Homo sapiens: one gene and its partners. The protein of the gene in region 2 purifies or fractionates together with the protein of the main gene of each other region. This does not show direct contact. Each region holds a gene or a part of one and is shown on either strand. Other genes may lie near its edges.

What was found.
Region 1: the proteins of SLC6A1 (region 2) and TM9SF3 purify together in Homo sapiens (affinity purification with mass spectrometry, with the first as the bait; one large-scale study listed by BioGRID). This does not show direct contact.
Region 3: the proteins of SLC6A1 (region 2) and RFT1 purify together in Homo sapiens (affinity purification with mass spectrometry, with the first as the bait; one large-scale study listed by BioGRID). This does not show direct contact.
Region 4: the proteins of SLC6A1 (region 2) and DHCR24 purify together in Homo sapiens (affinity purification with mass spectrometry, with the first as the bait; one large-scale study listed by BioGRID). This does not show direct contact.
Region 5: the proteins of SLC6A1 (region 2) and ADCY6 purify together in Homo sapiens (affinity purification with mass spectrometry; one large-scale study listed by BioGRID and IntAct). This does not show direct contact.
Region 6: the proteins of SLC6A1 (region 2) and KDSR purify together in Homo sapiens (affinity purification with mass spectrometry; one large-scale study listed by BioGRID and IntAct). This does not show direct contact.
Region 7: the proteins of SLC6A1 (region 2) and ABCB1 purify together in Homo sapiens (affinity purification with mass spectrometry; one large-scale study listed by BioGRID and IntAct). This does not show direct contact.

The regions. Positions count from the first base shown.
Region 1 is NC_000010.11:96,549,013-96,552,512, forward strand, and holds part of TM9SF3 (transmembrane 9 superfamily member 3 precursor), read right to left. Parts: intron 2,400-3,500; coding exon 2,233-2,399; intron 1-2,232.
Region 2 is NC_000003.12:11,030,748-11,034,247, forward strand, and holds part of SLC6A1 (sodium- and chloride-dependent GABA transporter 1), read left to right. Parts: intron 1-429; coding exon 430-532; intron 533-2,891; coding exon 2,892-2,992; intron 2,993-3,500. UniProt on the Homo sapiens protein: Mediates transport of gamma-aminobutyric acid (GABA) together with sodium and chloride and is responsible for the reuptake of GABA from the synapse. The translocation of GABA, however, may also occur in the reverse direction leading to the release of GABA.
Region 3 is NC_000003.12:53,123,936-53,127,435, reverse strand, and holds part of RFT1 (man(5)GlcNAc(2)-PP-dolichol translocation protein RFT1), read left to right. Parts: intron 1-1,441; coding exon 1,442-1,527; intron 1,528-3,500.
Region 4 is NC_000001.11:54,863,196-54,866,695, reverse strand, and holds part of DHCR24 (delta(24)-sterol reductase precursor), read left to right. Parts: intron 1-1,249; coding exon 1,250-1,393; intron 1,394-3,500. UniProt on the Homo sapiens protein: Catalyzes the reduction of the delta-24 double bond of sterol intermediates during cholesterol biosynthesis.
Region 5 is NC_000012.12:48,786,290-48,790,345, reverse strand, and holds the start of ADCY6 (adenylate cyclase type 6), read left to right. Parts: upstream 1-1,256; 5' UTR 1,257-1,440; intron 1,441-1,489; exon of another isoform or gene 1,490-4,056. UniProt on the Homo sapiens protein: Catalyzes the formation of the signaling molecule cAMP downstream of G protein-coupled receptors. Functions in signaling cascades downstream of beta-adrenergic receptors in the heart and in vascular smooth muscle cells.
Region 6 is NC_000018.10:63,332,707-63,336,206, reverse strand, and holds part of KDSR (3-ketodihydrosphingosine reductase), read left to right. Parts: intron 1-848; coding exon 849-950; intron 951-3,500.
Region 7 is NC_000007.14:87,513,885-87,517,384, forward strand, and holds part of ABCB1 (ATP-dependent translocase ABCB1), read right to left. Parts: intron 2,782-3,500; coding exon 2,625-2,781; intron 1,545-2,624; coding exon 1,347-1,544; intron 1-1,346. UniProt on the Homo sapiens protein: Translocates drugs and phospholipids across the membrane. Catalyzes the flop of phospholipids from the cytoplasmic to the exoplasmic leaflet of the apical membrane.

The DNA of each region.
Region 1 (3,500 bases), on a different chromosome or scaffold from region 2:
AACATCTGAAGAGGTATTTAGCCTACACCTGCCACAGCCTTACCACTCTCCAGTGAAAACTTTCAGAGTAGCAGCAGCAGCACTAACAAGCTTACTCCTCACCTTCTCAAACTCTATGCCTTCTCAATATCACACTATAACAGGCACCCACACTGATACTGATCCTCTACCTTATACCCTCAAAATACTTTTCCTCTGATTGCTATAGTGACCACAGAGGCAAAGTAATTTTTACTTTACATTATCTGCTCTTTATCCTTTAGAATCATTCCTATTCAAGTGACTTATCCCAATTTTGTGTGCAAATTTTTCATTTTCTCACCACTTTGTATTATTATTTTCTCTATTTTCATTTCCGTAACATAGCAAATTAAGAAAAGAGTTCTGGAATAAGATTGCCTAGGTTCCAATCCCAGCTCACTAACACTCTTTACTAGTAAAGGGTGCTCATTGATCTCAGTCAGATTATTTCTCTGAGCTTTAGTGTCCTGGTCTGTAGAATGGAAATAGAATATTTCCTTCATAGGGTTGATGTGAAGATTAAGGGATCAAATGTGCATGAAACACCTAAAGTGAAATCTCAATAAGTTGGCCACTTTTATATAATAATAAATCCTTAATGCTTTAGTACTTACATAAGTAATGAATTACATTCACTTCAAATAAACACAACACAGAAAAACCACTTACAGTAATTATAGGCTAAAATAACAATGCATGACTTGCCTGCTAATATTATACATTAGTGAGTGGTTTCTTATTTATAAAAGTTGAAGGTCTTTAAGTAGAAGAGCTTCTGCATTTTAAAAAAAAAAAAAAAAAAAGAGCTGCCGAATTGTAACACTAACATTTTGAAAAGGAAGCAGCAAAAACTTGGATTCTAGAAGAGATTATCTTCTAGTGGCTCTTAAGACTGTGACAGTACAGCTAGTGTCAATTCGATAGTGATTAACTTAATCCAGTGTTTAATGTAAAGCACAACTTCTTGGTAGATGTGAAATGTTTTCTTATATTTAGGGTCCAGCTTATCTGAAATACATTATGCCCGAAAATATGAACTACTCGCCAGAACTCTGAAGTTTAGATTTGGGTTATTTTAAAGCTCATGCGGTAAATGAATTAGAAAGGTTATATTAAAGAAATACAACCAATGCTACAGAGAAATAGCTTTGTTGGTTAATACATATTCACTTCAGTTCAACAAGCATTGACTGAATACCTTCCACATGCAAAGCTCCTTATGTAGGTACTTTGAGAATTCAAAGGTAAGTTATGACCTGATCCTTACTCTCAAGGAACTTACTATCTAGCAGAGGAAACAAATATTTAGTATACAGTTAAATATTTAATATGCAACTAAAGAGCCATTCTTTCAGCAAGGATGTATTGCTTGCCCATCAAACGCCAGGCATATAGAGGAAAGAGTGCATTATGAACTAAAACAGAGGCATGAAATATAACTAGAGAAAAGTGTCATTCTGAAGGAGGACTTCATATGGCCGCACCTGAAATGCCTGAATTATAATCGCTACCACCCAGGCACCAGAGTGTGTTTGCTTCACAGAGGTTGTGGCTTTCTTGAGCACTGAATAGGGACCTGAGATCTTCTGTGAATGTGTAACTTTTTCACATAATTCAAAGACCTCAAATTAAGAATTTCTTACAAATGGTTTTGTTTGCAAAGAAAGAATTACAAAACTTGTGTCAAGATAGGATGCATACTGACCTAGGAGTTTTTTTTTCAAAGAAGTCATCAATTATTTTTCTAACCTTATGTGACTATTTCATCACTCTTTTTACTATTATTTACAATGTTTTCTTCTACTCTGATGTTTTCCAGATCTGAAGGTAAATATGAAGTAACTTAGTAACTGAAATTCTTGAACTTCTGATGAAGCTCTAATTGGATCTTCAACTTTAGGAAAAAAAAGGCTATTTACTTTGTCAAACAGCTCTGGATTGAAAGTAACCTCTGTTCATATCTTTAATGGAACATATAACCTTTATAACTAACCACAATGTTCAGTAATGCTACTAAGTTTTGGCATGTAACAGAAAAATACAGATTACTGTTCATTATTTAATTTGTCTGTCTGCATTTATGATATTTATCATAAACTGTAAGATAAAGGAAATAAGTAACGATTTAATTATGATTGACTTAAAAGATTCCAGTGATTAAAACTATTTAAGAACAATAAAGACATAATACAGTTAAGTGTAGGCACTTACTCAGTATATAAATCTTCTATCATTGCAACAATAATAACGATGAGAGACACAGCAAATATCTGACATCCAGAACCAATCAGAGAGGAAAATATCAGTGGGTGACTTGATGGTCTAAATACATCTCCATGCACCTGTTTCCATCCATATTCATCTCCTAGGTCTCTATCCTATATACAAATATATATATAGAGAGAGAAAAGCAAATCATTCAGAATCAAACTAAAACATAGTATGTAAAAATTACAGTTGTAAGTTTCCTCCCTCCAAATTTATAGCTAAAGAAATACAAAATATTGAGAAAGTATATTCCAAACTTAGAATGATCACTGCCTTAATAACAATGTTAAAATGCTGAGGTTCAGGAAGTTGACTTCTGGTTGTGCTCAGAGAATCTCAAATAACGGAAAAAGAAAAGGTTTAGTAACAAAAAGAAATGGTCAAATTGGGAGAACAGTGCACTGACTCTCTTAATGCCACTTTCAGACACTATTCTTGCTATTCACATCATAGCTGTAGCTCATATACAATCAGGGGCTAGGTGGAGAAATGAAAGAGAAGAGTATCAAAACCAGTACTAGATCCCCTAAGAATGCAGAAATGTCCTTTAGCGCCTAGAATCTAAGAAAACATATGGGGGAAATATTCAATATGAATGTTTTTATTTAACAGTCTATATGCATTTTTTTAAAAAGAATTCAATTTTTACTTTGCAACCTTAGTAAGCAAGTGCTCCTTAAACAGTTTCTAACACAGCTTGTTTCTAAAACAATATTTCCTAAGGAATAGAAGTCCCTCAAGGTAATCTGTTTTGGTGGGGAGAATCCTAATCAGATACAGTTAAGAGGTACCAAATGCTTTATCCACCCTCTGATACTTCACAATATACCCTAGTATATTAAAATTTAAAATTTGAAACTATTTCCCAAGCCAGGCACGGTGGCTCACACCTATAATAACAGCACTTTGGGAGGCCAAGGCAGGAAGATCGTTTGAGGCCAGGAGCTCAAGACCAGCCTGGGCAGCATAGTGAAATTATCTCTACAATAAATAAAAAAATAGCCAGGGGTGGGGGCTTGTTCCTGTATTCCTAGCTACTCAGGAGGCTGAGGTGGCACGATCACTTGAGCTCTTGAGTTTGAAGTTACAGTGAGCTATGATCGCACCACTACACTCCAGCCTGTCTCTTAAAACAAATTTCCTAAATTTATTTAATGATACAGTATACCTATACCGAATATCCATTAGCTAGCACTCTATGTAACACACTT
Region 2 (3,500 bases):
ATTTGGGTGGGATGGGATGGGATGGGATGGGATGGGATGGGATTGGATGGCATGGGATTGGATTAGATCTCTCTCTGCTTATTTATGTGTTATATTATTGTCTCATTTAAGTCCTGAAAGGTTTTAAGCAGGGGAGAGACCTGACTGATTTACACTGTAAAAAGATGGCCCTGGTGACCAACTCCGCTTTCTGCCCTCCAACCTTACCAGAAATTGGCATTTTCCTCTACCACCTGGACATTTCCTTCCCAATGCCCGGACTGTCAATGTCCACATCCTCTCGTGGTCACAAAGCCCTCAGTGCTTCATCTAATCTACCCTGAAGCCTAATCCCAGCCCCATCAGCCTCCAGAGTCCATGTGGTCTGTGAACTGGATGCAGTGGGCGCCGGGGACAATGCACCTGTTCTCACCTCTTTTCATCTTGCAGGGGGGTATTTATGTCTTCAAACTCTTTGACTACTACTCTGCCAGTGGCATGAGCCTGCTGTTCCTCGTGTTCTTTGAATGTGTCTCTATTTCCTGGTTTTACGGTGAGTATCAGCCCCTCATCCCTTATTCATTCACTCATTCATCCATTCATTCCTTTCTTGAGTCATCATTCAACAAGTGCAATTTGAACCCCAGGTCTTCTCCTTACATTTATTTATTTATTTATTCTTCACATTACAATTCAATGAGGTTAGTCCAGGAGTCCCCCATGTTTAGAAGATATAAGAGCAGTTAAATGAATTCATTTAAAATAAGTGGAGATTTTATCCAGAAAAGGGAAACCAAAACTACTTTTTAAAGTTTTAAAGTTATATATTTAACACAGTCTAGGCTGTAATTAAAAGTGTGCACTATCTTAAAACAAATAACAAAAGAAACATTGATTTTGTTTATTTTGTGGCCTAAGTTTCTTGAGCCAACTGCATGATAGTAAAAAATGACAACATCCTTTCCTGCACCTTTGATTGTCCCATCAGAGCAAATGTTTTTAAAGAAGCATGATATTTTGTGTCCCCCTTTGCAATATCTGCCACCTCATCCTCCTTGTCATTGTCCCTTCTTTTTTGTTTGTTTTATATGTATAAATTTAAGGGACATGAGTGCAATTTTGTTACCTGGATATCTTGTGTAGTGGTGAAGTCTGGGCTTTTAGTGTACCCATCACCACATAATGTACATTCTTTTTTTATTTTTATTTTTATTTATTTTATTTTATTCATTTTTTTGATGGAGTCTTGCTCTGTCACCAGGCTGGAGTGCAGCGGTGCAAACTCAGCTCACTGCAACCTCTGCCTGCCTGGTTCAAGCAATTCCCCTACCTCAGCCTCCCAAGTAGCTGGGATTACAGGCATGTGCCACCACGCCCAGCTAATTTTTTGTATTTTAGTAGAGGCAGGGTTTCACCATGTTGGCCAAGATGGTCTCGACCTCCTGACCTCATGATCCGCCCACCTCGGCCTCCCAAAGTGCTGGGATTACAGGCATAAGCCACCAAGCCCAGCAGTACATTCTACCCACTAAGTAATTTCTCATCATCCACCCCAGCTCCCATTCCCCCACCCTTCTGAGTCTCCAGTGTCTATTATTCCACCTGTGCCCAGTGTTTAGCTCCTACCTTTAAGTGAGAACATGCAGTATTTGACTTCCTGTTTCTGAGTTGTTTTGCTTAAGATGATGGCCTCCAGTTCCATCCACGTTGCTGCAATAGGCATGACTTCATTCTATTTTATGGCTGAATAGTATTCCATCGTGTATGTATACCATATTTCCTTTATCCAGCCATCCACGGATGGACACTTAGGTTGATTCCCTATCTTTGCTATTGTGAATAAACACGAGTGCAAATATCTTTTTGATATAATAATTTCTTTTCCTTTGGATAGATAGCCAGTAGTGGGATTGCTGGATCAAATGGTGGTTCTATTTCTGATTCTTTGAGAAATCTCTGTACTGGTTTCCATAGAGGTTGCACTAATTTACACTCCCAATAACACCTTCTCTCTCTAACTGTTCCAACACGGTCAGATCCTCACTGGTCAGTGACTCTGCTTATAATTTGAGCAGTGCCCGAAGCCGCTCTGGTGAACTTCAAGACACCAGTTTGGGGTTTGGGGTTTTTCTTTTTCATGAGATTTGCAGTTCTTTGCAATTGATTGTCAATTTCTTTTTCTTTCATTCATTCATTTATTTATTTATTTATTTATTTATTTATTTATTTTTGAGACGAAGTCTCGCTCTTGTTCCCCAGGCTGGAGTACAATGGCACGATCTCGGCTCACTGCAACCTCCACCTCCCAGGTTCAAGCAGTTCTCCTGCCTCAGCCTCCCAAGTAGCTGGGATTACAGGCGCCCGCCACCACACCTGGCTAATGTTTATATTTTTAGTAGAGACGGAGTTTCACCGTGTTGGCCAGGCTGGTCTCGAACTCCTGACCTCAGGTGATCCTCCCACCTCGGCCTCCCAAAGTGCTGGGATTACAGGCATGGGCCACCGTGTCCGGCAGATTGCCAGTTTCTTATAGCATCTGACCATCAGGGAGAAACAGCCCCTGCCCAGGAAAGCCTTTGAAGGAATGGCTGGGATAGATGTCGAGTGGGAGGGACATTGAGAGTGGCAGGGGTGGAGGGGATCATCATGTCAGTCTCCTTTTGTTGGTAGATATCTTCACATTAAAGTGACTTGCTCACCTACACAACCCACTTGCTGTGAGAATTGGGCTATTGAAAAATACTTGGTAACGAGGACCCCCAGAGCATAACCCCCATGGTACAGACAAGGAAACTGAGACTCAGAGAGGTTAGGTGACTTGCCCATGGTCACACTGTGAGAAAGTGGTAGAACCAGGCTTTGACCCTGAAGCACCCACAGCTCATCCATCCCTCCTGCTCCCAATGTCACAGGTGTCAACCGATTCTATGACAATATCCAAGAGATGGTTGGATCCAGGCCCTGCATCTGGTGGAAACTCTGCTGGTCTTTCTTCACACCAATCATTGTGGCGGTAAGAACAAGGCCTGACTAGCCCTGTTAGGATGAGGCTAGACCAAGCCCTGGGGGGACTCAGGTCCAGGGAGAAACTTCTAGAGGCAGAGGCAGGTGGGAGAGGCCCCCAGAAACCCTGTTCCTTAATAATACTTCTCTCTACCATTTGTTGGGCATCTATTCTGCACCCTGCATGGTACAAGACACATTATATCATCCTCCACAAACCTCAGAAAGGAGGCATTATTGTCCCACTTTACCGCTGCAGGATCTGGGGCTCACCTAGCCAGCATCACCCAGCTAGTCAGCACTGGGATTCGAACCAAGCCCAGTCTCTTGGCACTTGGAGACTCTCCTTCTCAGGGTCCCTCATCCCCACAAGCAGGAGCTGAAGCAGGGGCGGGCCTGGGAGGGGCCACCCAAGGTTCTTGAGGTGGGGGCAGAGCCACTGCATATGTTGTGTCCACATAAGGGGACCCTGCCAATGGCACATTGGGAGCTGATATCTCACCCTTGCTCTGCTTTTG
Region 3 (3,500 bases), about 42 Mb from region 2:
GCCACTGCGCCCAGCTAAGTATTGGGATTACAGGCATGAGCCACTGTACCCAGCCCTACAATCTCTTTTGATCCTTTTAATCAACCCTATGTGATAGGTAAACTCATTTGACCGAGGAAATTGAGGCTTATAACAATTAGAAGATAACAGATAGAAGAGCTAAATGGTGAATTGTATTTTTAGTAGAGACGGCATTTCACCATGTTAGTCAGGCAGGTCTCGAACTCCTGACCTCAGTTGATCCACCCGCCTCGGCCTCCCAAAGTGCTGGGATTACAGGCATGAGCCACCATGCCCAGCCATATCTGCATGTTTCTAAGGAGCAGCTACAGAGCTGTCATCAGACTCAAAAGACCACCTTTGACTCCATAACGGTTAAGATGGTGATTTCTTGGCTTTGGAGACCTTGCTGCTCTGTGATACTTTAGGTACAGTGTTACACAATGTCCCTTTTTGGTCATAGCTGTCCCCAGAGATTTTCAGACCACAGTAGTCCATTGATATGCTTAGATCAAATCTTCCAAATTGCAACTCTTCACAGATAACTCTGAGGGTGCTTGACACAGAAGTGATTTTCATTTGCTGCTGGGATGCAGAAGGGAGTCATTCAGTGAATGAGGTTTGCACTCTTCCCAGCATCCCCATTTAGCAACCCTGTTTAATTACAGTCTTCTTGTTCTCTGTGTCTCATGGGAGAAGTTCTTTGCTTAGATGGTTTTCTTGAATTGACAGATTGGAAAGTCTCAGGAAATGTCCCTTTCAAGCGGCAATAATTGGACACTCTCTCCCTTCCCCCCATGTTACATTACGTTATCTTATTTTTGCAGCATCATTTAAAAGGTATTTCAACTTCTCCCTGGAAAGAGACAAGTATTCAATAAAGAAATACATTTTCTATGTTCTAATTGAGAAAACTGAAGTTCAGAACGATATAAATGTCATTATTGAAATTCCTAGATATTATGAGGCAGAGGAGAAAAGAGAAATTAGTCCCCATGATTTCTGGTGAGTCTGCTATACCCTTAAGGCTCCCACTTGCTAAGCGTATGCTATTTCTAAACAGGCTGGGGTGGGGGAGTGTGGCCAGGGCCCGGCAAGGTGAACCACTAACTAGAATTCTCTTTCTGCTTCCTCAAGGGCTTGACTTTGTAGAAACTCAGTGAGTCTATTGGGGCCTCTTGGTTGTTATTAATAAATTAGGGAGCCTTCCAAGTGCCTTCCTGGGTTCTTTGACTACTGCACGGGAGTGCTGAGAGATCCCATGGAATGAAATTTCAGGAGAAATGCAGACAGGTTGGGCGTCTTAGAGGAGAGTCTCCATGAAAAAGCTGCTGTATGTCATTACATCACATTAGGAAGAACAGCCACATTGTTCTCATTTCAGCTAAGTAAACACTTCTAACGTCATTTATTCTTACGTATTTTTCCTCTTTTTCTATAGGTGTTGTTTCGGTTGATCACCTTTGTCTTGAATGCATTTATTCTTCGCTTCCTGTCAAAGGAAATCGTTGGCGTAGTAAATGTAAGGTAGGAGGAGATGCACCCTGGCACTGTCAGAGTTCACCTTCCTAGCCAGGCTTTCTTCAAACTCTGTACCTGTTTGTCATCCTTGGATTCTAGAAGCATGGACCTTTATCAGAAGCAGAATGTCTTAGCAGTAGGCTGAGGAGAAGCGTGCAGGAGTGGAGGGACGCGCAGGCGATGTTGCTTTTAATGGACTCATGGAGTGTTTTCCATTAGCAGCCTCCAAATGCACATTTCTTTGCCAGCTGTTCTGGTTTTCCTGCTCTTGGAAGTCAGGAAGGAGAAGAGTGGGAGTAATTCATTAAAAACTCTCTCTCAGATATAATCCTATGTTCTTGTCCTGCTGACAGCAAAGGAAACAGAAATTCAGTAGTTTGTGAGGATGCGCTTCATAATGGCAGGGCTGGAGCAGCCACCTTCCTTCCCTCCTCAGTGATTTTATAATTGGGATATGGCAACTGGGATTCGAGCTTGAGTCTTTGTCATCAGTTTCTTGGAGGCTCTTGGAAAGATGACTTCTTTGTCTTTTAGACTCAGCTTGTTTCTTCTACTCGCCTCCTTTCTGTTCAAGGACACCCACGCATATTTTGTCTTCACAAATGACACAAAGTATATGAAATGATGTGAGTGCTCAGAATAGCTCAGCTTCTCAGGTGTGTCTTCATGTCCTGATAAATAAGACAATATGTTCCAGACAGCATTTCATGTCTAATACTTACCAAACATATACTCTTGGCTCTGGTCTCAGAGCTTAGTGGCAGGACTCAAGCTTTGAGCAAAGGAATCATCTGTGGAGTTTTGCACTACATAGTGCTGAACAGGGGCCCAGGAATCTGAATTTTTATAAGCTCCTTAGGTGATTTTGAAACAGGGACCATTCTTTGAGAAATATGTTTTCTTTTCCTCTTCTTCACCTTCTTCTTCTTTTTCTTTTTTTGAGACGACAGGCTTTTGCCCTATCACCCAGGCTGGTGTTCAGTGGCGCCATCATGGCTCACTGCAGCCTTGACCTCTTGGGCTCAAGCGATGCTCCCGTATGAGCCTCCTGAGCAGCTGGGCCTACAGGTGTGCACCGCCACACCTGAATAATTTTTTTATTTTTTGTAGAGATGAGGTCTTACTGTGTTGCCCAGGCTGGTCTCGAACTCCTGGGCTCAAGTGATCCTCCCATCTTAGTCTCCCAAAGTGCTGGGATTGTAGGCATGAGCCTGAGAAATATAGGCACTTGGCCCTAAGAAATACTGTTTTAAAAGCAGGAAGGAAGAGGGGCAAATCCTCCTAGGGGCTCAGATTTTTCTCCCCAGGCAGCCTTCCTGAGATTGGCAGGTCCTGCTTTGACAGCCCTTGTCTGGCCTGCCCTGCTCCCCTGCTTAAGGTTTGGTTCCATCTCCTTATTTGCAGTGTTCCACAGAGGCACTGGGTAGCAGGATAATCCTTGGACAACCCCAGAGACCTTAACCCTGGGCTGTCCCTACTCTGGCTTCACCCAGACGGCTGTCTATTGAGGAGGGGAGATCTCAGCTACTCCTCGCTAAGATGCAGGAAGGCTCACCCAGGTGCTGCCCACCTGGGAGGTACCCAGGCACGCCTTGCTGATCTGGGTTGCAGCAGCCTCTGTAATGGTTGCCAGCCTTGTTGCCTGTCTTGAGATTCTTTTGGCCAGAGCCTCCACTCGGTAGAGGCTCAGCTTTTCTCACAGGGGCCATCGGTCACTCGTGTCAGTGTGACCAAGAAGGGTGGGGTTATAATCTTATCTTCTTCTCCTCCTTATGGTCATGGCCACACCTCTGCCTGTAGCCATGAAGGCTGAAGCCTTTTGAGGCCACTGCAGCAGTTTCTATCCTTCACGTAACTGTAGGCACACACCCTCAGGTGTCTTTCATTTGGTTCCTAACTCATTAGTTCTCATGGATCAGACCGGTAGGGGGTCCTGTAAGAGCCCACTGCCTTCCACATCACCACCAGTGGTTTATGAC
Region 4 (3,500 bases), on a different chromosome or scaffold from region 2:
CGGCAAAGGGTTGCCTGGCTGTAGGGTAGAGCAGGTCAACAAGGGAATGGGTGGGGACTGATACTTCAGCCACCTGTGGACCAGGCACCGTGCTTGGCACTTTCTACATCATCTCTTTTAGTCTTCCAGAAATGCTAAGTAACCTGCCTAGGCTCTGCTAAGTGTGTTGTAAATGGAAAAAGCAAATTGGCAAACAGTACGTGTAAGATGGTCCCATTTTTCAGGAGGCTGAGGCAGGAGAATGGCGTGAACCAGGGAGGTGGAGCTTGCAGTGAGCCAAGATCGTGCCACTGAACTCCAGCCTGGGCGACAGAGCGAGACTCTGTCTCAAAAAAAAAAAAAAGATGGTCCTATTTTTTAAAAACAGTGGGCATATGTATGTAATTTCTAATAGACAAATAACTCCCACAAAGTATGTATTTTTATTGTCATGTTACATGTGAAGAAACAGGCTCAGAGATGACCTGCCTGGGTGTGTCCCCAGCTGCCCACCCTAAAGCTTGTGCTTTTCCAGGATCCCCCCTGCCTCTCCCCGAGAGCATCTGCCAGAATTCATTTATGGATGAGGAAGCTGAGGCCAGGAGAAGCTCAGCCATCCCAAGGCACACAGCACATTGAGTCATGACCATTTAGGGCTGCAGGAGACATCAGCTCAATAGAAGATTTGGGTGTGGGAGCCCCCAGGGCCAGGGAGGTATGAGCCTTATTCATGTGAGCATCCTCCAGACGATGGTGGCTGCCTGGGGAGTGCTGTACCCGGAGGACTGTGGAGCTTGGTCCAGGGACAGCAGGGAAAGTGCCATGACCAGTTGGTGCCATGAGCCCTGGGTTGCACTGAGGGGCTGACCCATTCCCAGAGTTCGTGCTTCCCTGGCCTTGGGGAAGGTGGGAAGGGAGGGAGGGAGGGAATTCCCCTGCATGGGGCACTGCATCAGGGCAGTTAAATGTTTAACTCTGTTAAACACTTGCACCAGGCTAGGCGGGGTCGCTGAGTTCTCTAGACTGTCGGGGACTCACTGTTTGGCCCTGGGCACACACCACTTAACCTCTTTGAGCTCCTGCTCTCTCTGCTAGAGGATACCCGCTGTGCCTAACCTCACCAGCTTTCAAGAGTCTCAAAGGCAGTAATAGACATGAAAGAGCTTTGAAAAGGCCAGGAGTGCTGAACAGAAGCCGGGTGTCGCTGTTACACCCCGATGGTGCTGGGCGCTTGTCTGCAGGCTGATCACAATGCCCTCTGTCATTTCAGCTGAATAGCATTGGCAATTACTACAAGCCGTGGTTCTTTAAGCATGTGGAGAACTATCTGAAGACAAACCGAGAGGGCCTGGAGTACATTCCCTTGAGACACTACTACCACCGCCACACGCGCAGCATCTTCTGGGAGCTCCAGGTGAGGCTTAGGTTTCTGTAGCCCTGGCTCCTCCAGGCCAGCTGGGCAGGGAGCCCGGACAGTTAACACTGTAGCCATACTCTCTCCCTTCAGGGTAAAGAGTGGCTTTGTCCTAAGGAACTGCAATGCCTTCTTAAGCAGCAACACAGTCGTTTCCTTCTGAAGGAACCAACTACCTTCAGTTCAAGCAGCAGGCTCTTAGCAAGCATCTGCTTGGTGCTGGGGAGTAAGCCCCTGGGCCGGTACTTTGGGGAACACAGACCTGTTCCGCCCTTGAGGAAGGGTTAGCCTCTAGCCACGGTGAGCAGACAGATCCCTGCACTGTAAAGGGCCGCAGGAACATTAGTAGGAAGTGGCTAGTTCTGCCTAGGGCTCGAGGTAACAGCCAAGCCTGGCTGTGAAAGGTGAGTGAGAATTTGCTGTTGCATGTGTAGATGGGTGGGTGGATGAGGAGCAGTGACACTTTAAGTGGGGGAAGGTCAGGAAGAACCCCTCAGGAGATGACTTTGTGAGCAGGGACCTGAACATAGGGAAGGCAGACCAGGAACAACTCTGGGGAGGACTCTGGAACTCTGTTCACAGGCAGAGGGACAGCCAGAGCCCAGGGCTTGAGCTGGGCTAACAGGAAATTAAACATTATAAAATGGACAGTTCAGGGTAGTTTAGTACATTCACAGTGTTGTGCAACCACTACCTCTGTGTAGTTCCAAACATTTTCATCTCTGAAAAGGAAACCCTATACCCATTAAGCAGCCACTCCCTATTCTCTCCCCTTTCCCCAGCCTGTGGCAACCACCAATTCATCTTCTGTCTCTGCAGATTTACTTATTCTGGATATTTCACATATATGGAATCATTCAGTATGTGCCTTTTGTGACTGGCTTCTTTTACATAGCATAATGTTTTCATGTATCAATATTTCATTTCTTTTTATGGCGGGATAGTAGTTCATTATATGAGAGACCACATTTTGTTTTGTCACTCATCTGTTGATGGACATGTGGGTTGTTTCAACCTTTTGGCTACTGTGAACAGTGCTGCTACAAACCTTCATGTGCATGTATTTGTTTGAATACTTGTTTTCAGTTCTTTGGGATATAGAACTAGGAGTGGAATTGCTGGGTCATATGCTAATTCTGTGTCTAACTTTCTGAGCAACAACCAAACTCTTTTCCACTGAGGCTGTGCCATTTTTCATTCCCACCAGCAATGTATGAGCGCTCTATTTTTTCAACATTCTCACCAACACTTGTTATTTTCTGGTTTTTAAATTATTAGTATTATTATTATAGCCATTCTGGTGGGTTTATGGTATTGACTTGCATTTTCCTTGAAATTAATGATGCTGAGCATCTTTTTATATGCATGTTAACCGTTTTGTATATCTTCTTTGGTGAAAAGTCTATTTGAATCCTTTGCCACCTTTTAAAATTTGGTCATTTGTCTTTGTTGTTGAGATGTAAGAGTTCTTTGTGTATTCTGGATACTAGACCCTCATCAGATATATGATCTGCAAACATTTTCTCCAATTCTGTAGGTTTCTTTTCATTGTCTTGGTAACGTCCTTTGATGCACAGAAGTTTTTAATTTAGATGAATTCCAATTTATCTATTTTCCCTTTTGTTTGTGCTTTTAGTGCCATATATAAGAATTTATTGTCAAGTCCAAGCCCCTTTGTTTTCTTCAAAGACCTTTATAGTTGCAGCTCTAATCTTTAGGTTGTTGAGTGGGGTAGGAGTCCAGGCTCCATTCTTTTGCTTATAGCTATCCAGGTGTCCCAGCAAGGCTGCATGTGTTTGAAAAACAGCAAGAAGCCTTCGGAGCCAGCATGCCCACGCTGAGCTATGGTGAGGAATGAGGTCAAACAGGCACCAGAGGCTAGATCATATGGCTCCTTGTAGGTTAGGAAGGACTTTATATTTTATTCTAAGTATAATAGGAAGCCAATGAGGGCTTTGAACAGGAAAGTGGCATGGCCTGATTTTTGTTTTAAAAGAATAACTGTGACAGCTGGATAGAGTGGATGGGGACGGGAGTGGACAAGAGTGGAAGAGTAGAAGAAAGAAGATACTGTTGTCTGGGCAGCAGCAGAGGAGAAGTGTCAAAT
Region 5 (4,056 bases), on a different chromosome or scaffold from region 2:
TCTTGAAGGACAGGACTGCAGGGAGGGCTGGTCCTGAGGAGGAAGCATCTTCAGATACCTAGGTCTTGGGATCTTGGGTGGGGAATAGGCTGCTTGGGGAAGGGCTGAATTGGAAGGAGGAGCTAGAGGTCTGACTGAGGGAATGGAGAGGGGGCCTCAAAAGGAAGCCAGGCAGGCTGCCTTCTTCCCAGCTCCAGAATGGCACCCCCTCTAAAGTCACACTCACCTACGTACATCCTGGAGTGAAACTCCTTCTCCTTTCTGCTTCCACCATTACTCTAATCCTCAAAGGGTTAACCAGCTTTCACACGATTTTCCCATCTCCCAGGTAACTTGGGCAGCTGCTCCGTGCTGGAAATAACTAAAGACCCAGTTTCTCAGTTCGTGCACTTAGCAATGCACCCCAGTAGCCCCTCCAACCCCCAGCAGAGAAGCACAGCCCTTTGGGTAAAAGATGCCTGGGGGTGAGGCTGCAAGTTGGCAGGTGCGGGGGAGGGGCTCCCAGAGAGTAGGGCGGGGGGTTGTGGGGGCGGCAGGGAGAGTGCCCCTTCCCTGGGTCCCTCCACTGGGCCCCGAGGTTCGCCTCGGGGCCGCTGCCCCAGAGACTGGGGGGAAGAGGAAAGAAGTGGTGTGCGGGCAAGCAGGCCGCACACACCTGGCGCCTTGTGGAATGAGAGCTTAATTAATTATTAAACTGAGTTCCCGCGGGAGGGCGCAGGGCCGTGACAGGCAGGGCGGGAATGGCTAGGTGGGGGCTGGGGCTGGGGCAGGGGCAGGGAGGAATTGGGGATGAAGAGTGGGCGCGGGGCGCCGGCCCAACCCCTGGGACCCTGACAGGAAGGAAGGCGACCCTCGGTGGGCGGGGCGGGGGATGTAGCCGTGAGGGGTGGGTTTGCGGGCGCGCTCGGGGACCCCCGGGGTGAGGGCGGGAGAGGAATGCCGGAGGAGGCGGCCGGGGTGAAGGGAAGGGGACCGGGCTGCGAGGTCCCCTCCCCGCGGGGTCTTGATCCCAGAACAGTAGCTGCTTGTCTTCCCAGGACTGGGGGAGGAAGCGGCCGGAGGAGAGGAGGGGGCGCGCGGAGGGAGGGGTCCCATTATTTGGCCTCCTCCGCCCCTACCCCGCTGCTAGGAAGGGGAGTGGGCAACTCGGCCCCCACTTCTGGGGAGGGGGAGGGGGATGCCCAGACAAAAGGAGCTTGTGCCTTTAAGGCGGGGAGTCCGGGAGCCAGCGGGGAGGGGACTTCTGGATCCGGGGTAGAGGGCGGCTGCGCTGGACAGCTCGGGAGGGGGCGAGGGCCGGGCGGACGGCGGACGGCGGACGGCGGGCGGGACGGCCAGGACGCGCGGGCTCGGAGGACCGCGGGACGGCCGGCCGGCCGGCCGGAGCCCGCGGGGGCGGCGGGGCGGGGGCCCAGGGCAGGCGCGGAGCCGGGCCGGCAGGTGAGCGCGCTGAGGGCTAGGGGAAGTGGCCGCTCGGGCTCCCGGTGCGCCAGGATTGGAACGCACCCGAGCGGCTCTCGACAAGAGTTTGTGGGTGGGGGCGCCGAAGCCTTGGACGGGTCGTCTCGGCAGTGTTGCCCGAGGGAGTTGGGGTTGGCAAAGGGAAGTCATGGAGGCAGTGGGATCGAGGACTCCTAGGTCCGGCGCTCGCCACCCCCGTCGCCCGCCGCCTGCCTCCCTCCACGGGGCGAGTTCCAGGCTGGCCCGGAGGCCAGGAGGATCTGGCACGTACTGGGGGAGGGGCTGGCCTGAGTTTTTTGCTGCGGGGCTGTGGGGTGTCTCCGAGTTTGGGGGAGATTCCATTTAGGGGAGAGGAACCGGCCTGGGCAGAGGGAGGGATGCCCTCTGTCTGCGGGAGTCCCTCTCCTTCCCCTCACCCAAAACCTTGGGAATGAAAGGGGTGGGGTCGGCTCCCCACATCCCCCAAGGCCTGCCGCAGGGTGGGCAGGGGAGCTGACTTTATTCAAAGCAGACTCTGGGGCTCGACTGAAAGGCTAGAGGTGGAATCAGGCGTGGGAGCCTCTTTGCCCATATCCTCTCCTTACCAGATTACCCCTGTGAGCTGGAGGGACCTGGTGGGGGTTGCATAGTAAAGGGTGATGTGGGAGCCCTCTGTAATCTTTAGGGAGAGTGAGGACTGGGGATGGGAGAAGGCGGCAGCGGGCACTGGACCGACAGATACAGGCCCTGGGTAGGCTCCTCTACATCTGGAAAGGCCCAGAATTGAAGAATTGAGGCCCATGTCCGAGTATGGTGGGTGGTGCTGGCACTGCTGGGCCCCGCCTGGGCAGTGCCTCTTACCATGAACTTTCTGAAGTCGTTTTTAATCCCCTGGAGCCTCCTTTTGCCAAGGAGGGCAGGGGCAGATGGGCCCTGGGGATGGGATAGACAGGAGGTGGCCAGGAAGGCTTGGCAAGGCAGTGGGCAGAGCCATCCTTAGGGCTGGGCCTTGGCCTTGGCTGGTTCCAAACTCTGGTCTCAGCCTGATCAGGGTTTGGGAGGGACTTGAGGTCTGGGAGGCACTGAGCCTGGGCCTGCCAGGCTGAATGGGACATGGCTGTGGCTGTGGGAGCCGGTGGTATGAAGAACAGCAGATCTGTGAGAGTGCAAATGGACCAACACTCAGGGGAGGAGAAGGTAGAGGCACAAGGCTTAGGAGCCTGACTCTGGGGAGGAGGGAGGTGGTCTGTGCTCCCAGGGCTCATAGTGATGGGTTGCTGGACAAAGTGGGTTGGGGGACCATATAGAGAAATTTTGTGGCTTGGAACAGTGCTCTACCCTGTTTCCTGCCATACCAGTCTGGCATGGGGTGCCAGAAATGTTGGGAGGCCGGCAAGTTCTGCGGGATGGGCAGTGCCTGGAGTGGAGCCCAGGGTGGGATGGTTGCAGTTGGTTGGACAATTACATAGCTCTGAAGCTATCCCCTTGGGGGGGGTCAGAGTGTTCCTGGGAGGGTCATGCATTCTCCTGGATAGCATTTGCCCCTTTCTCTGTGAGTATGAGCCAGATGCTAGGATGTGTTTCCAGGGGGCTTGGAACATGGCCAGAAACTAGTCCTTTGGGAACAGGTCCGGGCCAGTGCTGGTGGGGGTGGTGTGTTGGGGGAGATAAGAACAGGGAAGGGGACTGGTGAATGGAGGAGGCTGAAGCAAAATGTTGTGGGTGGTGGATGGTGGTGGGAAACCTGCTCACTCTGGGCTCTGTCTCCAGCAGCTCTGGGGACTGACAGCCAAGGACACAGGGACTGATAGAACCAGGCATCTGACTGGCTAGAAAGACGTGTGTTCTTGCTCATGATTTCCTCATCTTTCCATCTCTTGACGATGACAGAGGTTTGGGTTTAAAGTGTTGTAGAGTGAGGAGAAGAACTAATATTTTTCAAGTGTGTACTTCTTGACAGGCATTATTAGATTCTTTCCTGAGGACCATTATCATTTCCATTTTGCAGATGAAGGTACTGACACAGAGAGGTTAAATAACTTGCCCAAGGCAGTGTGGCTAGCAAATAATCACGCTAAGGTTTGGAACCCTGGTCTCATGCCAAAGATCATGCTTCTAATGAAGTATTTTGAAGAGCAAGGCTTTCTTTGGTGACCTTTTCCAAATGCCAGCCTGACCAAAAGTCTTGTATTCCTGATCTGTCCTTCCAGATGGTGCTGTTGGTGATGTTAAGAGGTTGAAGGGGCCAGGCATGGTGGCTCATGCCTATACTCCCAGCACTTTGGGAGGCCGAGACAGGCAGATCACCTGAGGTTAGGAGTTCGAGACCAGCCTGGCCAACATGGTTAAACCCTGTCTGTACTAAAAATACAAAATTTAGCCGGGTGTGGTGGTAGGTGCTTGTAATCTCAGCTATGGGGAAGCCGAGGCAGAATTGCTTGAACCCAGGAGGCAGAGGTTGCAGTGAGCTGAGATTGTGCCACTGCACTCCAGCCTAGGTGGGGCAGAGTGAGACTCCGTCTTAAACCAAAAAACAAAAGGAGGTTGAAGGACGTGCTGCTCTGTGGGATATAGGAGAAGGGGTGCTGACAGATCTTGGCTGAGGGTGACTCAGGG
Region 6 (3,500 bases), on a different chromosome or scaffold from region 2:
AATACAAAAATTACCCGGGTGTGGTGGTGCATGCCTGTAATCCCAGCTACTTGGGAGTCTGAGGCAGGAGAATCACTTGAACCTGGGAGGCAGAGGTTGCAGTGAGCAGAGATCACACCACTGCATTCCAGCCTGGGCCACAGAGTGAGATTCTGTCGAAAATAAATAAATAAACAATACAAATGATGCTCCATGAAAGAAGTGGCAGTTTAGCCCTTGACTTCAGGAGCTGCACAAGGACTTTTGTTCCAGGCAGTTGTCCCGCCCTGGAATGCAGTGCTGCGGAAGCGCGTTGGGCGCATTCTCATTTGTCACACAGAGTATTAAGAAGACATGTCCTCGAGGGTTGCCATTGAACAAAATGATGAATTTTCCTGCTTTATCAAGAGGATTTTAAAGCAAAACTGACACTTTGATTTTTAAAAGAATTTTAGAACTTGTATTTTCTTTGTGTATTATTTATTACTGCGAGTGCGTGTGGTAGTAGAGGTGACAATGACTCCTAGTACAGTTTGGCAAGAACCCCGTGGTTCTTGCCCATGTCTCTGCAGTTTTGCAGAGGCAAAACTGTATTTTCCATACAACACACTGTGGAAAAGACAATGAATGTCTTAGTGTTATTAGGACAATCATTTGTCCTTGGGGGCCCGCAGGGGTCCGTGGACTCACTTGTTGAGAACTGCCATCTGCCAAGGCCGTGCGTCCATTTCTGAGTGCTGATCAATGCTTTGTGACCATTTTATCTCACTTAAAGTGAACGAGCACACTCCACTGTTTCTGATGTGTCCGACTGATTTCTGTCCACATTACTAGGATTCCCTCTTTCTCTTCTTTTTCTTCTCTTTTAGCAAGGAAATTTCAACAGTTCCCTTGGCTCAGATGGGTACATGCTCTCGGCCCTGACCTGTGGGATGGCTCCAGTAACTTCTATTACTGAGGGGCTCCAGCAGGTAAGCTCTGCCTAGGCTAGCAATCAGACAGGCCGATGGACAAGAGAAAAACTGCCTTTCATCAAACCTTGATGAGAAGAGGTTAAGGGAAAACTAAGTAACTTTATTTGACAATGTATTTTTATGGAGCTATCAACTTTTCCTCTTCCTCCACCAGGAATGAGTAAATAGGTTAAAGATATAACTTCAGGAATTTAGAATGGCAAGAAGTCTTCAGTGCCGGGCCTTGCAGATAGAGAAATAAAACACCGTATCTGCTGTTGAGGTGTTAACCTGGATTTTCACCTAAGAACCACTGCTCCAATGTGTTTTGAAAATGGAATACTCCTCTAGAGTAAGGGGTAGCCTTGCTTAAAAAGTACTGGGATATTAGACTAGAAAACCTTTTCTAGGTGAATCAGGTCACACACAGCTAAATTTAGTGAGACACGAATCATGGATTAAACAGTTGCTTCGCTTATAGAATGTATTATTTTGTCCAAGATACACAGTGTTTCATTGGTGTGCTAGGCACTGTACTTGCTCATGGGGAATCAGATGGAAGGCGACCTCTCCAGCTTCAGGGGCATACAGTCAAGTGGAATGCACTGACCAAAAAGGTGATAGTAGTCCGGGCGCGGTGGCTCACGCCTGTAATCCCAGCACTTTGAGAGGCTGAGGTGGGTAGATCACTTGAGATCAGGAGTTTGAGACCAGCCTGGCCAAGATGGTGAAACTGTTTCTACTAAAAACACAAAAATTAGCTGGGCATGGTGGCGGACGCCTGTAATCCCAGCTACTCGGGAGGTTGAGGTAGGAGAATTACTTGAACCCGGGAGGTGGAGGTTGCAGTGAGCCGAGATCAAGCCACTGCACTCCAGCCTAGGCTACAAGGGCAAAACTCTGTCTCAAAAAAAAAAAAAAAGATAGTAGTGCAGTGTAATGAAGTAGGGGTTACAATAGAGGGAATGCTCTGGAAAGACAAAGCCATGGGATAGTTGTTAACAAGTACTAAATTCTGTGCAGTCAACCACATTCAGACTTATATAAATGACTTAGTTGTTGGTTTTCTTCAGGGTCTTTCCCAAGCCCTCTTTTCTTTTCATTCTGTAATGTACCTACTGTCTTTGCCATTCTCTTAGAGGTTGACACTGTGTTAGATGTAAGCTCTTTGAGGACCAGGCCCACACCTCTTGTTTGCCGTTGTACCCCTAACAGCCAGCGCCTGGCACTTAGTAGGAACTCCAGAATCCCTGAGCTGAACAAATGCATGAATTCTTTTATGTTTTAATTTTTGGGCTGGCATGGTGGCTCACACCTGGCGTGTTGTCCTGGACTCCCCTGCTTCTGTCCCTCACGTCAGAGATCATTGTCATCCTTGTCACTCAGTTCTTCACATTCTTCCATTCTCTGCAATTCTGGCAGTGCTTCTGGAGCCCAGGCCTGGGTTGCCGCAGCAGGCCCCCTGCTTGAGTTACACACTTTTTGAGCCAGAGGTTGTAAACGATTCCCATGGGCCTGTAAAGCAGTTTTGTTGGGTCCATCTGGTGTGAGTGTGTGTGTTTAAGATTTTAAAATAGTTTTAAAATTAGGTTTTATATAAAAGGTCCAGATTTCAGACTTTTCTTGGAAAATCAGAAGGTTTAGCTGCACAGAGTCTGCATTCTTACCTGGCAGTCATCAGCAAGCACAGGTGGCAGCTGCTCCTGAGGGAGGAGCACAGTCCCTGCAACCACTATGGTCTGCAACCCCCTGCTCAGGCCCCCTGGATGCGTTTGAGTGTACCCTCACATTTTCCACACCAGTTGTTTCTAAACTGCAACTATACATTGCATGAAAACATTCAATGACTCCTTGATACCATCAGGATAAAGCTTTAAAAATTCCATTGCACCTGAGTATGGTGGCTCATGCCTATAATCTCAGCACTTTGGGAGGCCAAGTCAGGAGGATCGCTTGAGCTCAGGAGTTTGAGATCAGCCTGGGCAACATAGTGAGACCCTGTCTCTACAAAAAAATGTAAAAGAAAAGAAAGCCAGGCGTGGTGGTGTGTACCTGTATTCCTAGCAACTGGGAGACTTCTGCTTGAGTCCAGAAGTCTGAAGCTACAGTGAGCTGTGATCATACTCCTGCACTCCAGCCTGGGTGACAGAGCAAGACCCTGTCTCTAAAAAGGATTTAAAAATTAAAAAAATTTCCATCGCATGCCATAAACCACCTGATCTCCTACCCCACGTACCTTTCCAGGCTCTTTTTTTTCTTTCTTTCTTTACCCATCTTCTTCTTTTTGGAATCTTCTCTGTGTCCTGCCAACTTCTAATCCTTCAGGTCTCACCTTAAATATTGTTTTTTCCGGAAGATCCAAGGACTGGCTTCAGTGCTCTGAGGGTGTAGGGAAAAAAACAAAGGGATTTTTCTATTCTCTTTTTTTTTTTTTTTTTTTTTTGAGACGGAGTCTTGCTCTGTCACCCAGGCTGAAGTGCAGTGGCACGATCTCAGCTCACTGCACGCTCTGCCTCCTGGGTTCACACCATTCTCCTGCCTCAGCCTCCCCAGCAGCTTGGACTACAG
Region 7 (3,500 bases), on a different chromosome or scaffold from region 2:
TCTGAGAGCTAACATTTCCTCCTCTAATTGCTTTGGCTGTCAGCGACGTCTTTATTTAGAGTCCTGTTTTTAAGTTCACCACAAAATTGAAGGACACAATCAGAGTTCACAGAAAATATAAAGCAAGAGAGTAAAAGTAGGGAACAAGCTTGTAATGATTTAAGAGTAAACTGAATAAAGGCATAACTGTCTTTGAATACAATAACAAACATTTATGAGTAAGAGTGACCGCTGTGAGGAAGTAAAAAGAGTCCTAGACTAAAGATTGAAAACTCTCTTTTCATTTGAGTCATTAAATGCTACCAGCGTCCATACACAGCGGGTGGGCATCCATCTGACTTGTACTAGCAGGCATCCATTCTGATTGGTCAGTGTCCATGCTGTTCCCATTGTTAAGAATTTTAAATATCACTTCTCAGTACAACTAATTACATGCCTACATAATGAAAATGTCTTGCTCTTAATTCTATTCCTTCCTAGTTTGTCTTCTTTCCTATCCCCCATCATAGTCGTTTAAACTCACTACTCCCTGCCAGACACTTCCCTCATCCCCAGCAACTAAGACAAAAGGGCATACTTCCATGTTCTTTTTACATTTCCCAAATTTGTTGATTCTACTTTTTTTTCCTCAGATGATGTTTCAATGCCCTCTCTCCATCAATGATTTTGTCTCATCCCCAGTCATAAAAATGCTCAAGAGTTCAACCCCTAAACATTTTCCCTGGACTCTGCCTCCCCACTCAAGTGCTGTCCTTATTTGCCTTTCTTTTACTTTCCATCTTCTTGATAATCTATGCTCACTTACATCTCCATTTCTTCCCCTAATCATACTTCAGCCACCCTTAACTGTTTCCTACCATCACTACTTCACTAAGAATATTTTAAAATGTCAGAAATAGCCCATTCATTGCTAGATTCTATCATGTCTTCTCAGTCTCCTCCTTACCCAATCTCTCTATACCATCTGTCATTGCTGACCACCATCTTTGAAACAGTCTCCATCCTTGGCTTTCATCTCACTCCTAGCACCTGTCCTGTATCTTTCTGGCTACTTCCATTTTTGTTGGTTCTTTTCAAGTCAGCTGAAACCTAAGTACAGCAAGGGAGACAGGTGGTACAAAGGGTGCTTGCAAAGGAGGGTAGAGGGGTAGTGTTGAGGGGAGCCTGGAGAAGTTGGCTGGGACAGATGACACCACTTGGAGACCATATTTAGGCTCTCAGACTTTATCCAAGTGGGACTGTTGTTTAAAGGTTTGAAAAAACATGGCTTATAGTTGAGAATTAAATACATTCAGACATTTGGATGATGAAAACCTGAACTGAGCTAAATGTGAAAGTGTGCTCACCACTTTCCCTGCCAAGGGGTCGTAGAACCGCTCCAGGAGCTGGACCACTGTGCTCTTCCCACAGCCACTGCTGCCCACCAGAGCCAGCGTCTGGCCCTTCTTCACCTCCAGGCTCAGTCCCTGAAGCACTGGGATGTCCGGTCGGGTGGGATAGTTGAATACAACTTCACCAAATGTGACATTTCCTTCCAATGTGTTCTGCAATGAGAAGAATAACAGTAAATTTGAATGCTGCAATACTGAAAATAAAGTGTATAGCTAACTCTCTCGATTACCAGGTGTCAGAAGATAATTAATTTGTGTTACAATTGGCTTCACTTCAAACTGCTAGAATTTATTTTATTTTAATTTTATTATTTATTTATTTTTTATTTTTTTGAGACAGAGTCTCACTCTGTCACCCAGGCTGGAGTGCAGTGGCATGATCTCAGCTCACTGCAACCTCCACCCCCCAGGTTCAAGCAATTCTCGTACCTCAGCCTCCCAAGTAGCTGGGATTACAGGCGTGTGCCACCACACCCAGCTAATCTTTTTTTTTTTATTTTTATTTGAGATGGAGTTTCACCATATTGGCCAAGCTGGTCTCGAACTCCTGACCTCACGTGATCCACCCACCTTGGCCTCCCAAAGTGCTGGGATTACAGGCATGAGCCACTGTGCTTGACCTCAGACTGCTAGAATTTAATAAATGAGATCTAAAAGAGTAAAAGCTTTCATAGCATGTATTGTTAAGACAATATGAATATGCAATACAGCTACAATAACTCAAATCTGTTCCTCAGGAATACAGTAACTTACATACAATAAAATCTGATAACCAGCCTGGGCAACATAACGAGACCCTGTCTCTACAAATAATTAAAAAATTAGCTGGGCATGATGGCACACGCTTGTAGTCCCAGTTACTTGGGAGGCTGAGGCAGGAGGATCGCTTGAGCCCAGAAGATCAAGGCTGCAGTGAGCTATGATCATACTGCTGCACTCCAGCCTGGATGACAGAGTAAGACTCTGTCTCTAAAAAAAAATTGTTTTTAAAAAATCTGATTAATAGGTTTTGCTTATAAAGTGAGCAGTATTCCTATTTCCCTATAACCTTTGCTACGTAAAAGTACTGAATGTTGATGTATATTATTAGCAGTAATTGAAAGGAATCTATGATCTAGGAAGTTTTATTTTATCATCAGCATATTTGAAAGTACAAATTTTATTAAGTTTCCACTTAAAATACTTTCATTCAGGAGTCAGGAGTAGATCAAACAGTTGAAACATCAAACTCACCGGCATTAGGCCTTCCGTGCTGTAGCTGTCAATCAAAGGGGTTTTTTCAATGATCATGATGATGTGGGCTGCTGATATTTTGGCTTTGGCATAGTCAGGAGCAAATGAACTGACTTGCCCCACGGCCATGGCACCAAAGACAACAGCTGAAAATACTCTGGAAAGCACAAACACAAAACATGTGCACAGCATTACCATCACAATGCTAGAAAGCTGACACTCCTTTTTTTTTTTTTTTTTTTTTTTGAGGTGGGGTCTTCCTGTGTTGCCCAGGCTGGAGTGCAGTAGTGCAATCAGAGCTCACTAAAGATATGATCTCCAGGGCTTAAGCGATCTTCCCACCTCAGCCTCTGTAGTAGCTGGGACTACAACTGTGCATGACCACACCAGCTAATTGTTTTATTTTTTGTAGAGATGGGGGTCTCCCTATATTGCCCAGGCTGGTCTCGAACTACCGGGCTGAAGTGAACCTCCTGCTTCAGCCTCCAAAAGTGCCGGGATTATAGGTGTGAGCCACCATGCCTGGCCAAAAGTTGACACTTCTATAACCAGAGAGCTTTGCCTCTAATAGTTATAAAACAGATGTTAAAAATAAAACAAACACATTTCCTTATAAGTTCATGTCTATGTGATAGATTGATTGCAAAATGGCCCATTTTTTTCCCTCTGTATACCTCTCTCTGTATCCTCATCTTCTTGCACTGTGACCTTTGCAGCACCCTTTGAATCTGGGCTGGCCTTGTGACTTGCTTTGGCCAACAGGATATGGTGGAAATCACTTTTGCCAGTTCCAAGCCTATGACTCAGGGGGCCTTATATGCTTTGTGAGCATGCATGCATGTGTTCTCTCTCTCTTTCTCTCTCTCTCTCTCAGAA